Linked DNA regions of Homo sapiens: regions 2 and 3 are each linked to region 1. Evidence: fine-mapped expression QTL. A gene starts in region 1. Each other region holds a variant in brackets. All regions are shown on one strand. Distances are from middle to middle. Region 1 holds the start of GAS2L1 (growth arrest specific 2 like 1). Region 2 overlaps AP1B1 (adaptor related protein complex 1 subunit beta 1). Region 3 overlaps AP1B1 (adaptor related protein complex 1 subunit beta 1).

The links.
Region 2: its variant is fine-mapped to the expression of GAS2L1 in cerebellum (GTEx, PIP above 0.99). The same link has a PIP of 0.9 or more in cerebellar hemisphere.
Region 3: its variant is fine-mapped to the expression of GAS2L1 in whole blood (INTERVAL, PIP above 0.99).

What each region holds. Positions count from the first base shown.
Region 1 is chr22:29,304,227-29,309,226 of GRCh38, forward strand. It overlaps GAS2L1 (growth arrest specific 2 like 1), which reads left to right and starts at 2,424. Exons shown (of 6, transcript NM_001362985.3): 1 at 2,424-2,927; 2 at 3,861-4,512. The coding sequence starts at 3,880. RefSeq lists enhancers at 1,431-2,176, 1,781-1,830, 2,177-2,920 and silencers at 2,591-2,860, 2,881-2,930, 3,021-3,160.
Region 2 is chr22:29,344,832-29,349,831 of GRCh38, forward strand. It overlaps AP1B1 (adaptor related protein complex 1 subunit beta 1), which reads right to left. Exons shown (of 23, transcript NM_001127.4): 11 at 4,387-4,552. Among named protein-coding and RNA genes, the nearest start is that of SNORD125, 14 kb to the left of the region's middle. The variant T/C (reference allele first, on the strand shown) is at 2,021.
Region 3 is chr22:29,376,920-29,383,143 of GRCh38, forward strand. The region is part of intron 1 of AP1B1 (adaptor related protein complex 1 subunit beta 1); the gene reads right to left. Among named protein-coding and RNA genes, the nearest start is that of AP1B1, 8.5 kb to the right of the region's middle. The variant CA/C (reference allele first, on the strand shown) is at 1,941.

The DNA of each region.
Region 1 (5,000 bases):
TGGTGCCACTGAGGCTCAGGGAGCTTCACCATCCCACCCAATGACCAATGACAGAGCCTGGGTTCCGTCCAACTTCACCCATGTCCAAAACCCCAAAATGCAGCAAGGTAGGTATAAGCAGGAGTCAAATTCCTGCACAGCTGCTGGCTACACATATCCCATGCCTTCTCTGGGCCTCAGTTTCCCCAAATTGTAAAATGAGAACACCTAAGAGTATCATAGCTCATCGGGGTATTTTGAAGATGAAACTGTTAAATGTCCACACCCTGATTCACCCCCACCCCAAACCTGCAACCCTCCTCCACCTCCAGCAGCCCTTCCCTCCCCAGGTGTTAGCACCTCCGCCCTCCCAGTGCTCAGCCCTGGGAGTTGTCCTGGATTCCGTCCTCACACTCAACCAATCCACCAGCACATCAGCTCTCCCCTCACAATATGGCCAGAATCCAGCGCCCTCTCACCACCTGGTTTCCTCTGAGGCTCCAGCTCCTGCCCTGGCCCACCACAGCAGCCCCAGGGAATGTTTTTTTTTTTTTGAGACGGAGTCTCGCTCTGTCGCCCAGGCTGGAGTGCAGTGGCACGATCTGGGCTCACTGCAAGCTCCGCCTCCCAGGTTCACACCATTCTCCTTCTCCTGCCTCAGCCTGCCAAGTAGCTGGGACTACAGGTGCCCGCCACCACGCCTGGCTAATTTTTTTGTATTTTTTTAGTAGAGACAGGGTTTCACCATGTTAGCCAGGATGGTCTCGATTTCCCGATCTCGTGATCCGCACGCCTCGGCCTCTCAAAGTGCTGGGATTACAGGCGTGAGCCGCCGCGCCCGGCCGGGAATGTTAAGACCTAAGCCAACCACCCCTGCTCTAAATCACTGCATGGCTCCCATGTCCCTCAAAAGAGACACGGCCCCCAAGGCCCTGCTTAACCGGCCCTGGGGTCTCTCTAATCTCTCTACCTCCTCCCTCACCCACCTCCCTGCACTCCAGCCTCAGCCACCTCCCCAGTCTTCTTGAGCACGCCGGACACATGCCCACCATGGGGCCTTTGCACTGGCCGTTCCCTCTCCCTCTCCAGATATCCCCGACCTTCCTCCCTCACTTCCTTTCCTGATGAGGGATTTTAAATTGCAGCCCCCTCACACCCACACCCTCACCCGGCTCCATCCCTGTCTTCTCTGCACCTCATCCCTGTCTCTGCCCTGGGGCTGCCTCCCTGCCAGACTTGGACAACAGGCCCTGAGAGCTGGCTCTGCTTGGTTCCCTGCTGTTTTGCTGTTGATTTCCAGTGCCCAAAGAGACCCAGCACACAGTAGGTGCCACGCAGGTGTCAGCCTTGAGGATTGCTAGTTACTGCCTTCCTCACTGGAGGAAGTGCCATGGGGGGCGCTGAGGTGAGAAAACGCCTTTGAAAAGGTCACACAGGCCAGGCAAGTGGCTCACACCTGTAATCCCAGCCCTTTGGGAGGTGGAGGCGGGCAGATCACCTTAGGTCAGGAGTTCGAGACCAACCTGGCCAACATGGTGAACTTGTCTCTACTAAAAATACAAAAAGCCGGGCGTGGTGGCAGGTATCAGTAATCCCAGCTACTCGGGAGGCTGAGGCAGGAGAATCGCTTGAACCCCGGAGGTAGAGGTTGCAATGAGCCCAGATCCAGCCACTGTACTCCAGCCTGAGCGACAGAGCGAGACAAAAAAAAAAAAAAAAAAAAAAAGGAAGAAAATAAAAAAGAAAAGGTCACAAGGACTCTCTGGGATGCCTGTGAATGCCTGGCACCAAGAGGCCTGGCTCACAGGTGCTCAACCAATGCTGCTGATCCGTGGATGAGGGCGTCCCCATAATCGTCATGTTCAAATCCTGGCTCCACCAGCTGCTCTCCTGACTGTGCCCCAGTTGGGCATGAGTGTCCTTCACAGAGGTGACACACCAGTTCATTCAGGTCAAGGGCGCAGAGCAGTCCTGGCAGCACACAGTAGGAGATTTATTGGAGCTCTGAGCCTGGCTGTGGTTGGCGGCTTCCCTGCAGGCCTGCCCCACCCGTGTAGCATGGCTGCCGCCCAGACCCGCCCGACGTCCCGCCCAGCCCAGCCGGCAGCAGCAGGGGGCAGGATTTCCCGCTGATCCCGGCGGTCCGTCCTCTGCAGTTTAAAAAGAGCCCAGCGGGGCTTAACCCTCCCGCGTCCGGCCGGCCTCCGATGCCCCCCGTCCCCTGTTCTGTGCGGAACTCCGGCTTTGGCCATCTGCCTACTTCTCTGAGCTTCAGTATCCTCATCTGTAAAACCGGTTCCCCTCATTTCAGGGTCAAAAATGAGCATTCAGTGAGCACAAGGAGCCCTCAGTCGCCAGGGGCATCCTCCCCCTCCCCGCGGCGGTGCCGTTTATCTGGCCAGGGGAGGTCCACCCGGGAGGAGGTGACTTTGCAGCCTCCAGCCGCTATCGCTTCCTGCCTTCATCTTGGGAACAGGCCGTGCTGTGCGCCAGCCCGGGGAGCCCACCGTCTGGGGAGGGGGGCGATTAAAAGGTCCCAACCTCCTCCCCAGGAGACCAAAGAGGTTGGACGGGGCCCCGGGTACTAGGCTGGGTGGGGGTTGGGCGCCTGGGCCGGTCGCAGTTGTCTGGGGGCCCTGGGGCTCTCTGCGTCGAGAGCGCTCGAAGACCCGGGATTCCTGGCCCGATCGCGGGCGGGGGGAGACCCCAGCTCCACCCCAGCTCCCGCCGGCTCGGGGAAGGGGCGGCCCCTTTAAGAGCGCGCGGCCCCGCCCGCCCCCTCCGGGCAGGATCCGAATTCCAGGGAGGCGGGGCGGAGACGGCGGCGAGGAGGAGGCCGCGGCGCGGGACGCATAGAGCTGCGGCTCGGGCGGCGCCTCCCTGCGGCGGCCCGGCCCGGCTCCGGCCCCCGCTGGGGCAATGCTCCCCGGGGCCGCGGGATGAGCCAGGTGAGCGCGGAGACCCCCAGCACTCCCTGCCTGGTGCGCATGGACGGGGGTGGGGAGGCGGGGCGGGAAGCGGCGTCCTCGGCCTCTGTTCCCCGGGGCTGTGTGACCTTGGGCGGCCCCGCACCCTCTCTGGGCCCAGAGCCCCAGCACCGGCAGGGCCTGCGGAGGCCGCTCTGAGTCCTGGCCCCGCAGGCACCGGCCTGGAGCGCTGGGGAGGCTTCTTGGAGGAGGCGGGGCCTGGCCCTGGCCCCGGATCGCCGAGACCGGCCACGCTGCGCCGCCTGGACGCCGGGCTCCTCCACCCACAGCTCTGCGACCTTCACGAGCTCGACCCTTTCTGCGCCTCAGTTTCCTCATCTATAAAATGGAGATAATGCCTCCGCGCGCTGAGCCCGAGCGCGGTCGTGCTGTTACACTATTGCTGCTGCTATGTCGTTAATGACGGCACAGCCCTTATGGAAGGGGGGCCAAGGAAGGCACGGGGACCTTCCCGCAGGACATGGGGTGGGCACCAGCCCTAAGCCATGCACATAACCCACTCTGAGGTCAGGACCTGGGTTCCTTTCGTGTCCACTGGGGGCCTTAGCCGTTGTCTTCACTTCTCTAGGTCCCAGCCCTTCACAATGGGCGCGCCTCCCTGCCTGAGAGGGAGGCCCCAGCCAAGCCCCAGTTTCCACCGCAAAAAGCCACACAGCAAACACTTAATGGACCCTAAATTTATAAAAATTATCCCATAGAGTCCTATGAGGCAGGGAATGTTACTGTACCCATTTCGCAGATGAGGAAACTTGGGGCACCGACATTTCCCAGAGCCAACATGTAAACCAGGCATTTGGCCTGAGTGACAGACTGGTGCAGGTGGCCAGCAGCTTAATTTGTACTGAGCGCTTACTGGGTCCCCACAGCGATCCTGAACTGTGTTCCTGCCCACAGTGACTCGGCCGGTCCGGGCATGGCAGACCCAGTGGCGGGCATCGCGGGCTCGGCGGCCAAGAGCGTGCGGCCATTTCGCTCCAGTGAGGCCTACGTGGAGGCCATGAAGGAGGACCTGGCCGAGTGGCTCAATGCCTTGTACGGCCTGGGTCTCCCGGGTGGTGGCGATGGCTTCCTGACAGGGCTGGCCACGGGCACGACCCTGTGCCAACATGCCAACGCCGTGACCGAGGCTGCCCGTGCATTGGCAGCCGCCCGCCCGGCCCGAGGTGTGGCCTTCCAGGCGCACAGTGTAGTGCCTGGCTCCTTCATGGCGCGCGACAACGTGGCCACCTTCATCGGCTGGTGCCGCGTGGAGCTGGGTGTGCCGGAGGTGCTCATGTTTGAGACTGAGGACCTGGTGCTGCGCAAGAACGAGAAGAGCGTGGTGCTGTGCCTGCTGGAGGTGGCGCGGCGTGGGGCACGCCTGGGCCTGCTGGCCCCACGCCTCGTGCAGTTTGAGCAGGAGATTGAGCGGGAGCTGCGTGCTGCACCCCCAGCCCCCAACGCCCCTGCCGCTGGGGAGGACACCACTGAAACCGCCCCCGCACCAGGGACTCCTGCCCGCGGCCCCCGCATGACACCCAGCGACCTGCGCAACCTCGACGAGCTGGTGAGTCCCCCAGCACCAGGTGCCAGGGACCCGACAGCACAGCCAGTGCCTGCAATCTGTCCCTGAACCTCCCAGGGTCCACCCTGCTATCTGCAGAACAGTCTGCCCCACAAAAAGAGTGCACATGTTGAGCACCAAACCGAGGAATGTATACCTGACCCCAAGGAAATGGGTAGCCCACAGAGAGGGAGGTGCCGGGGAGATGACGCAGCCCAGCCGGGCCTGGGACAGGATGCGGGCTCCTGGCACGATCTTCCCTCACTTTGTGTGCTAACTGTGCCTCAACTGAGCTTGTGCATTCCTTCTTCTGGGGGGCCGCATGATCGGGGCGCCTCCTCTGTGCCCTCCCTGCAGTCAGTCTTAGGCAGATGTACCCACAACCTCATGGAGGCTCGAGGTTGAGCGGGTGCTGTGATGCTCGGTTGAGACGAGGCATGGAAAAACCTGGGCAAGGTGCCTGGCACACAGTAGGTGCCCCAGGGGGCTCT
Region 2 (5,000 bases), 41 kb after region 1:
CTGCTGTCCATGGCTAGAGAGGCCTAGGAGCCAAGGATGAGAAGATTCAACAAGACAATATAAAATGAGTTCCATAATTGTCAAGCCCGGTGCAGTGGTGCAGGCCCATAGTCCTAGCTATTCAGAATCCTTTGAGCCCAGGAGTTCAAGGCTAGCCTGGGCAAAACATAGTGAGATTTCGCCACTAAAACAAACAAACAAAAAACTCCAAATCGTCAAGCACTAAACAAGTATTCTTTTTTTTTGAGACAAGGTCTCGCTCTGTTGCCCAGGCTGGAGTGCAGTGGTGTGATCTTGGCTCACTGCAGCCTCAACTTCCCAGGCTCAAGCAATCCTCCCACCTAGGCCTCCCAAGTAGCTGGGACTACAGGTATGTGCCACCACACCCAGTTCATTTTTTTTTTTTTATAGAGATGAGGTCTCACTATGTTGCCCAGGTTGGTCTCGAACTCCTGGACTCAAAAGATCCTCCTGCCTCGGCCTCCCAAAGTGCTGGGTTACAGGCATGAGCTGCTGCACCCAGTTAACAAGTTTTGTTTTGTTTTTTTTCTTTTTTCTGAGATGGAGTCTCGGTCTGTTGCCCAGGCTGGAGTGCAGTGGTGTGATCTTGACTCACTGCAGCCTCAACTTCCCAGGCTCAAGCAATCCTCCCACCTAGGCCTCCCAAGTAGCTGGGACTACAGGGGTGTGCCACCACACCCAGCTAATTTTTTTTTTTTATAGAGATGAGGTCTCACTATGTTGCCCAGGTTGGTCTCGAACTCCTGGACTCAAAAGATCCTCCTGCCTCGGCCTCCCAAAGTGCTGGGGTTACAGGCGTGAGCCGCTGCACCCAGTTAACAAGTTTTGTTTTGTTTTTTTTCTTTTTTCTGAGATGGAGTCTTGGTCTGTTGCCCAGGCTGGAGTGCAGTTGTGCGATCTCGGCTTACCGCAACCTCCGCCTCCCGTGTTCAAGCGATTCTCCTGCCTCAGCCTCCTGAGTGGCTGGGATTACAGACGCACACCACCATGCCTGGCTAATTTTTGTATTTTTAGTAGAGACGGGGTTTCATTATGTTGGTCAGGCTGGTCTCAAACTCCTGCCTCAAGTGATCTGCCTGCCTTGGCCTCCCAAAATGCTAGGATTACAGGTGTAAGCCACTGTGCCTGGCCCTAACAAGTATTCTTAAAAGAGCTTTGAACTGTGTTGTGAACCAAAGATGCAAAGTGAACAGGCTACTGAATTACATCACACCCCCACTTTACAAACAAGGCCCAGCAGTCTTTGCAATAACTGCACTAGAGACAAGGAAATGGGTTTGGTGAGTTCAAGTAACTGTGCTCCAGGCCACACAACAGGGAGGAGGAGCTTGGATCTCAAACTTCAGAGCTCTGTTTCTGTTCACACCACCAGACTCTTGGCTTACCTCTCCCTGTCCAGCTTCTCTCATTCTAGCTTTTTAGCAGGCTTAGCTGCAAAAGACTGACCCTATTATAGGGGCAGAAGCACACCCCTACAGCAGCGGTTCCCAGCCTTTGTGGCACCAGGGACCAGTTTTGTGGAAGACAATTTTTCCACAGATAGGGGATGCGGGTTGGGGGATGGTTTCAGGATGAAACTGCTCCACCTCAGATCAGGCATTAGGTTCTCATAAGGAACACACAACCTAGATCCCTCTCATGTGCAGTTCATAATAGAGTTTGCGCTCCTATGAGAATCTAATGCCGCCGCTGATCTGACAGGAGGCGGAGCTGAGGCAGTAATGCTTGCTTGCCCGCCGCTCACCTCCCGCTGTGCAGCCCAGTTCCTTACAGGCCATGGTGGCCCGGGGGTTGGGGATCCCTGCACTACAGGACATCCTTGCAGTGATCCCAGGCAGGACTTGACTGCAGGAGCAGAACCCAGCATAGGCAAGCTTTGCTTCTGAGACAGAGGGAAGAGGCTGGTATTGCAAGCAAAGGCAGTCTGGAGGCAGGTGGCAGTGGGGGGGGGTGACGGTGGGAATTAGTACTGTGATTCTGAGATGGACATCTGTTGTTT[T/C]TGCTCACCCAGCATCTATTCTGTCTTCTGGGAACAGAAACACTGGCTTTCCTTCAGAGCCTCGCCCTTCTTTCTGTCCCTTTCAGTCCACACAAACTGGGATCGGTGCCTGAGAGACCTCGCCAACCAGAGTCACAGTGCCTGGCTCAGGATAATGCAAATAGGTCCTGGGACTTTTGCTGGAACTACTGAGGGGAGGGGAAAAACTCTTCCCATGGGAGTTATTGTGCCATAAGGACATAGCCTGGAACTGTTGATTCCTTACAGCTCCCACTGTTGGGAGCCTATCCATGGCAGAAGATAGCTCAATGCCACCATCCAAGCACCCTCAGCCAGGAGTCCCAGAAGAGAGCATGCTACCCACACTTGCCAGCTACCGGAACCAGTTGGTCCCCTTTTTGGCCTGGACTAGTTTGCTTTTGAAACCAATTTGGCCCAAACCAACACTACCATGAACGAGTGTTTATTATGGGCTGGCCATGTGTCAAGGACATTACACAAAGCACCCTAATTTAACTTTCGTAGCAAGAGGATGAGGGAAGATCTAATGATTCTCATTTTACAAATGAAGAAACTGAGGCTCAGAGAGTTAAAGGGATAAGCATAAAGTTACTGAGCCAGGAAGGGGCAGAGGAGGGGTATGGACTCTGGGATCTCTCATTCTAAGTCCCACACTTGGACCCACGGGATTACACAACCCCAGTTGGGCAGCAAAAATTTCTGTGCTCACCAACAGACTAACAGACAGTTCCCAGTTAACTGAGAAAAGGGAATACAAATGACAAGGCAGACATTCAGCCTCATTCATAACAGAAATGCAAACAGAACTACAGTGAGGTACCCCTGTTAGCTACTGGACTGGCAAAAACAAAGCAGAAGTAAGGAGAGGGCAATCCCAGCATCTGAGATAGGAGTCTAAACCAGCACAACCTCCACAACAGGAATCTGGCAACAGCTACCCAAATCTCAAACTCACATGCTCTTTTCTCTAAGCATCCTGCTCCTATGAATGTATCCTCCAGCTATGCCTGCAGATGTGCATTACACAGGTTATTCTCGGCAGTACTGTTTCAATGAGCACAAGACTGGACACCTAAATACCCACCAGGAGAGGATGGTTAAATAAAGCATAAATGAATGAGAGCATGGTCTTTGCAGGTGTTGGTAACAGAAAAAGGCAAGGTGCTAAACAATTTGAATTTACAGAGTATGCTACAGCAGTGTTTAAAAATAAATGAGAGGGCAGTGTAGATACAGTTGATTCTCACTACTTGAGCAATCCATGTTTGTGAATCTGCCTACTTGCTAAAATTTACTTGTAGCCCCCAAATCAAGACTCATGGTGCCTTTGCAGTCATTTGCAAATACGTGCAGAACCGTGAAAGCTTTCAGTTGCCTGACACACACATTCACAGCTGAGGTCAAATAAGGCAACACTCATGTTTCAGCTCTCATCCTGTAAACAAGCATCCTTTCCACCACCTATTTAGTGCCATGTTTTTCACATTTTTGAGCTTTTTGTTGATTTCCTTGTTTAAAATGCTCCCTAGCACTGAAGTGCTTGCCTAGTGTCCCCAAGCACAGAAGGCTGTGATGTGCCTCAGAGAAAACATGTCCTTGATAAGCTTCGCTAAGGCATGAATTACAGTATCCATGGCCATGAGTTCAATGTCAATGAATTGACAATATATATTAACTAAGGTGTTTTTAAACAGAAACACACATTTAAAAAGGTTATTAACTGATCAATTGACAAAAACGTTGGGTCTAGATGCTCACAGAAACTAAACTCTATATTTCTCCTAGGAGCTATGGTTCAGTACTTGCTAATTCAGTGTCTGCCATGACTATGGAACAGAAGCACCATGAAAAATAAGAATTGGTTGCATATGTGTGTGTATGTGTGTATAGGAAGGATGGGTGCATGTGTGTGTATCTGTGGGTCTACTGGTGTATTCCTAAATGATCTCCTGAACTTTCCTAAGAAATCAAAAAAGTGATGACTTCTGGGAGGAGAATTTGTGTCCTACAAAGTGATGAGAGGGAAACTTTTCACTATATATGCTTTTGTATCAATTTTAAACCAAGTCAATATATTTCCTATTAAAATATGACTATGGAATTAAAACAAAATGAAGAACTTTTGCCTGCCTTCCACGCACACCACCACAGACTCTCACGTGTCCCCGACTCGACTGTACTGCAGTGAGGAGGAAAAGGGGCGGTGTCCATTACGCGCACATCACTCATCTGTCTGTCAGGGCTGTTTACGAGGTAATAGGAAGGGAGGGTTTCATGGCAGTATGGGCCACAGTGGGGCTGAGCTGCCAGTCATGACTCACACCCTGGCCAGCTCGCTGGCTCACCTGTGTGCTCTCGTCATGGAAGCCCTCGAGGAAGCTCTCCAGCAGCTCATCTGCGTTGTCGATCCGTTCCGCGTACTCGCCCACAATCCAGATCATGGCAGCCCGGGCCTCAGGCTCATCCAGGGAGTCCAGATTCTCACACAGTGTGGCAATCACACTCTCATACCTGGGAGACCAGGGCACAGTTGGTATGGGAGCCCTCAAGGAGAACGGGAAACCCAGGGAAGCCAGACAGGGGCCAGGAGGGAAGGGGACCTGCCTCCTAAGACCCCAAGGTGGCAGGTAAAGGGGATCTGAGTTTTGTTTTTTTTTTTGAGATGGAGTTTCACTCTGTTGCCCAGGCTGGTGTGCAGTGGTGTGATCTCACCTCACTGCAACCTCCACCTCCCTGGTTCAAGCAATGCCCCTGCCTCAGCCTCCCAAGTAGCTGGGATTACAGGGACATGCCACCACATCCAGCTAATTTTTTTGTATTTTTAGTAGAAACATGGTTTCACTATGTTGGCTAGACTAGTCTTGAACTCCTGATCTCAGGCAATCCACCCGCCTCGGCCTCCCAAAGTGCTGGGATTACAGGCAAGAGCCACCACACCTGGCCTGGGGATCTGAGTTTC
Region 3 (6,224 bases), 73 kb after region 1:
GGCATGCTGGCTCATGCCCACAATCCAGCACTTTGGGAGGCCGAGGTGGGAGGATCACTTGAGGTCAGGAGATTGGGACCAGCCTGGCCAACATGGTGAAACCCTGTCTCTACTGAAAATACAAAAATTAGCTGGGTGTAGTGGCAGGTGCCTGTAATCCCAGCTACTCGGGAGGCTGAGGTGGAAGAATCGCTTGAACCTGGGAGGCGGGGGTTGCAGTAAGCCGAGACCGTGCCACTGCACTCCAGCCTGGGTGACAGAGTGAGACCCTGTCTCAAAAAAAAAAAAAAAAAAAAAAAAAGGAAAAAGGTCCTTATAGGTAAATACTTAAGTTCACTTTACAGACAGGGAAACAGGTAAGGCCAGCTGGAAGACTAAAAGGTGAGTCAGCAGTAGAAAAACCAGATTTCAGACTTTCTCTCTGAGAAAACGTGGTTACCAAATTCAGACAGGCTCTTCCAAGTCAGTTCAATCACTATGAGAAAATAATCTGTGTTCTTTAGGCTCAGCATGAAATTTGGAACAAAGGTGGCAGTGGTAGTAGTAATGGTAAATGGATGTGCACCATGTGACAGACACTATGTAAAGAGCTTTAAAGTTAGTCCTCGTGGAAAGGCGTGGTGGTTCACATCTATAATCCCAGCACTTTGGGAGGCTGAGGCTGGCAGATCATGAGGTCAGGGGTTTGAGACCAGCCTGGTCAACATAGTGAAACCTGTCTCTACTAAACATACAAAAAAATTAGCCAGGCATGGTGGCGGGCGCCTGTAATCACAGCTACTCTGGAGGATGAGGCAAGGAGAATCGCTTGAACCTGGGAGGCGGAGGTTGCAGTTAGCCAAGATCGTGCCACTGTACTCCAGCCTGGGTGACAGTGCGAGACTCTGTCTCAAAAAAAAAAAAAAAAAGTTAGTCTTCACGATAATCCATGAAGGTTTTAATATTATCACAAGTTTACAGATGAGGAAACTGAAGTACCAGGGAGGTCAAGGCATTTGTTTGGAGTTACACAGCTAGAAAATGGCAGTGCCGGCACTCTCCACTGCTGCCCCCTAATAAGGTCACACATGTCCCACTCTGTCCAGCAAGGCAACTAACTGCTCCTCTCTGAATGAAGCCCTGGCAGAAATATACATGCTCTAGGGTAAAGGGTATGTGAAATGGGTTGCCACACATCCCTGCAGAGTCCCTCAGATGTTGAATTACAGGTTATTTTAGGGCCAGCCCAGCCGGTTTGGACAACAGGGAACGTCAAGTTTGGTCATGTGCCTAGTGAAAGCCTATCTGGGTGCGCTTGCCAAGTTATGGGCCTCCTGGGATTTGGATGAAAACTGATTAGTCAAAATCAATCTCCTGGCCGGGCACGGTGACCCACACCTGTAATCCTAGCACTGTGTGAGGCTGAGGCAGACAGATCTCTTGAGCGCAGGAGTTCAAGACCAGCCTGGGCAACATGGCGAAACCCCATCTCTACAAAAATACAATTAGCCAGGTGTGGTGGCATACATCTGTAGTATCAGCTACTCAGGAGCCTGAGGTGGGAAGATTGCTTGAGCCTGGGAGGTTGACGCTGCAGTGAGCTGTGAATGTGACACTGCACTCCAGCCTGGGCGAGAGAAAGAAACTCCGTATCAAAAAAAAAAAAAAAAAAAAAAAAAGGCCGGGCGCAGTGGCTCACGCCTGTAATCCCAGCACTTTGGGAGGCCGAGGCGGGCGGATCATGAGGTCAGGAAATCGAGACCATCCTGGCTAACACGGTGAAACCCCATCTCTACTAAAAATACAAAAAATTAGCTGGGCCTGGTGGCGGGTGCCTGTAGTCCCAGCTACTCGGGAGGCTGAGGCAGGAGAATGGTGTGAACTCAGGAGGCGGAGCTTGCAGTGAGCTGAGATCGTGTCACTGCACTCCAGCCTGGGCAACAGAGCAAGACTCCGTCCCA[CA/C]AAAAAAAAAAAAAAAAAAAGTCAGTTTCCTGAGGCCCACTAGCAATTAAAGACTTCAGAATGAAAAGGAACTAAAGGCAGACAAATGTCACATGCAAACGTTCTTATATTGGCTTTGAGTCTCTAGAACTCCATTCTAGAATCAGGTACCAGTTCTGAACTGATCTATAAGCCGTAATGTGCGGAAAGATCTGCTGTGAAGAAAAAAAAGTGATGGGCGCAGTGGCTCATGCCTGTAATCCCAGCACTTTAGGAGACCGAGGTGGGCAGATCACTTGAGGTGAGGAGTTCGAGACCAGCTTGGCCAACATGGCGAAACCTATCTCTACTAAAAATACAAAAATTAGCTGGACATGGTGGCTCGCACCTATAGTCCCAACTACTCAGGAGTCTCAGGCAGGAGAATTGCTTGAACCTGAAATCGCACCACTGCACTCTGGCCTGGGTGACAGAGCAAGACTCCATCTCAAAAAAAGAAAAAGTTCCTCTGGACTTGAAAATAAAGTAAGTAAGGCTTCTTCTGAACAATACTTAAATTAATCGAGATGAGGAGAAAGAGGCCAGAGACTACAGAACAACGCTCTTTGTGATCTCGGTTTTCCCATCTATGTAATGGGAACACTTTCTGAAGATCTGTCAAATTAACAGTGTAGAGCACCATCCGCTCCATGCCTGGAACTGTGCCCCACACGGAAGCATGCACACAGTAAACAAAGGACAGTCTTTTCTCACTGAGCTCTTACAGATTTAGAGGCCAGGTAAAGGACTGCAGGGGAACGGCAGAGTGATCATGCCTCCAGAGGAGGAGGGTTCTGAGATAGGTGGAGCAGCAAGGGAAGTTCTCTTAGATGAAGAGGGGCTTGGCTGACGCAAAAAGACAGGTCAGATTTAGAGAGGCAAGAGTGGAGGTGGCAAAGAGATGCACCACGAAATTGCCAATGTGACAACGGAGGGAACTGACAACAATTAAATCAACACTAGCTGGGGAACGGCTTCTTGCTAAGTGATTTACAACCCTTCTCATTTAATTCTCAGGGTAATTCAGTTAAAAAACAAGGAATTAGAGACACTGAGAGATGAGTGATTTACCTAAGGCCAAAACAAGAAGTCTGTGAGCCCCGCTGCCTGGCTGAAGGAAAGGACCTGGAAGGGAAAGGAGCAGACGAGGCTAGGGAAGGAAGAATGAGATTCAGAAATGGTTCTGGATGCCAGGTGTGTTGGGTCCTGCCAGGAGAAGACACAATGGTCATGTCAAATGACAAGTCTCATGCTGATAAGCATTTGACACTACTGATCACTCCCTCCTTCCTGAAAACCTGTCTTCCCTCAAATGCTAGGATGCCATGCTCTCTGCCTGCCCTCCTACGCCACTGTCTGCGCCTTCTCAGTCTCCTTTGCTTGTTCCTCTCCTTCTCCTTCAACACTGTGTGCCCCAGGGCTCAGGCCTGGTACCTCTTCTCTTCCCCATCTATGCTATTTTGCCTCTTTGGTGGATCATCCGGTATCACAGCTTTACATACCATCCACATAGCCCAACCTCTCCCCAGAACCCCCGGGCACACATGTCCAAACTGTGTAACTGACATCTCCACATTACTGTGGAGATGACTAGCAGGCAGCTCAAACAATGGGATAAAAACTGACCTCCTGCTTCCTTCCTTTCCCCAACTGGCTCACCCTGCAGTCTACATCATCTAGTTCCTGCCAGCACCATCTTTAAGAGGGCCTCAGGCTAAAAACCTGAGTCACTCTTAACAACATACTCTCCTTTAAATCTATCGGCAAATCCTATTGGATTCCGACCTTCAAAATGAATCTAGAATCCATGAGCAGCTTCTCACTAGCTCCATCACTAACCCCAGCTCCAAGCCAGCATCACCTTCCATTTAGAGTGCTAACAAAGCTGCTCCCACACTGCTTTGCTGACACCCCATCTCAGCAACAGCCAGGATGATCCTCTTACAGTCCAAATCAGACAGTAGCACCCCTCTGCTCAACGTCTTCCAACGGTTCTCTGTCTTACTCATAGTAAAAGCCAAAGTCCCTACCATGGCCTCATAGCCCACAGGTCCTATAAGAGATGCATGCCCCTCCTCTCTCACGCATGCACCCTGCTGGCCATTACCCTTTGAACTCTTCTCCCCATCATTCCCTCAGCTCCAGCCGCACAGGCCTCTTTACTGATCCTCGAACACAACATGCATCCACCCCAGGGCCTTTGCCCGTGCTATTCACTTTGCTAGGAAGGCTCTTTCTCCAGACAGCCTCATGGCTCAGTCCCTCACCTCTTTAGGTCTTGGCTCAAATGTCATCTTCTCATTGAGGCCTTCTTTGACCATTTTATTTAAAATTGTATACCCCTCCCCCATAATCCCCACCACTTCCTAACCCTCTTTGCCCTTTTTCCCTTCAAAGTACTTATTACCTATTACCTACACACTATAAAATATACTTACGTTGTCTATTCTTTCTCCCCCTATAAATTCCCTAATGTAAATGGGGGTAAGGATTTTGTCCATTTTGTTCACTATCATATTCCTGACTCCTAGGCTGGTACCTGGCAAACAGGTGTTCAATAAGTAGCTGAATGACCAGTGCTCAACTCTCTTCTTGGGCAAATTTCATGTTTTGTAAACCAACCTCTGCTAGAGCAGCTTCTCCATGTTCCATTCACGGGGTTATCCAGGATCAGAGATACATCTGCTCTGATTGTCAAGCTATTCTAACTATACTGAAATTGAACATGCCAGACCCCTAGCACATTTACAGCCAATAAATGGAAGTTAAGTGAATAAATTATGAGAGAGAGAAGAAATGGCAAGGGTAGAAGATCAGGTGGCAACATCTCCAGTGGGAGAAACGTTCAGTGAGGCCAAGTCACTCTCACCTGCTCCCATAGGTATCAGCTCAGAGTGACAGAGCTGCAGAAGGTGGGGGGCTCTGGCACAGGATATAAGTACCAGGTCCTTGCCTCCAGGCCCACATGCCTTCTTTGTTCCTCTAACAGCCAACTCTTCACTATCTCTACCCTTGCTGATCCTTCTGCTTGGATTATCCTCTCCTAACTGCTCCAATTTATCCTTCAAATCTCAGCTTAGATGATCTCATTTCAAAGATAACTTCCCTTCAGCGTGATACCTCTGATGCTTAAAAAAAGAAACAAAAAAAAAATACCTTTCCTACATGTACTATCTTTTTTGTTGTTGTTGCTAGAGACAGATAGTCTTGCTCTGTCACCCAGGCTAGAGTGCAGGGGTGTGATCATAGCTCACTGCAGCATCAAACTACTGGGCTCAAGCAATTCTGCTTCAGCCTCCTGAGTAGCTGGGACTACAGGCGTGTGCCATGCCCAGCTAATCTTTTCAAGTTTTTTGTGGAGTCTCGCTAAATTATCCAGGCTGGTCTTGAACTCCTGGCCTCAAATGATCCTCCCACCTCAGCCTCCCAAGTAGCTGGGATTACAGGCATGAGCCACGGCACCTGGCCATGCATGTACAACCTTAAGAAGGTATTTCTCTGTCCACATCCTTCAGTGTTCTTATTCATACATTTCCTGAGCATCTTTCGTGTACCAGAAACACTTCTACATGTTGGGAATGCAGGAGTGAAAGAAACAGACAAAAATCCTTCCCTACATGGAGTTTATGTCCTAATGGGGGAAAGAGACCGTAAGCAAGATAAGTGAGTAAAATATATAACATCTTAGATAGTGATAAACACAATGGAGGCAAAAAAGAGGAGGGAAGGAGGATAGGGAGGGGAGAGGGGAGGAAGGGAAGTTAAAATTTAACTAGGGTGGCCATAGAAGGCCTCCTTGAGAAGGTGACAGGTGACACTGTCTGCGAAAGAGCCTGCCAAGCAAAAGAGATCGCCAGTGCAAAGGTGAGTATGTGCCTGGCATGTCTGAGGAACAGAAGGGAAGTGAATGTGGCTGAGTGAGCAATGAGGAAAACAGTGGGTCAGGAAGTCACAGGAGAATGCAGGGGGCCTTATGATCAAGCGTGAGGTCTCTGGCTTTTACTGAGTGAGCTGGAGCCACTGGAGGGTTTTGAGCAGAGGAGTCCTGACATCTGACCTATATTTTAATAAGTTCTGGCTGCTATGCCTTTTGTTTCCCTTGTGGCTTATTGGTTTTTCTAATCATTGCATTTTTTTCTCTACTTCTTTGTCTCTCTCTCCCATTAAAATGAAGTAAGCAACTAGAGGGCTTATCTGAAGCCTGAAGCCATATCTGGCCTGTTGACCTATCAGCATAGGCCAGCACCAGGCATTAGCAGGCCTCG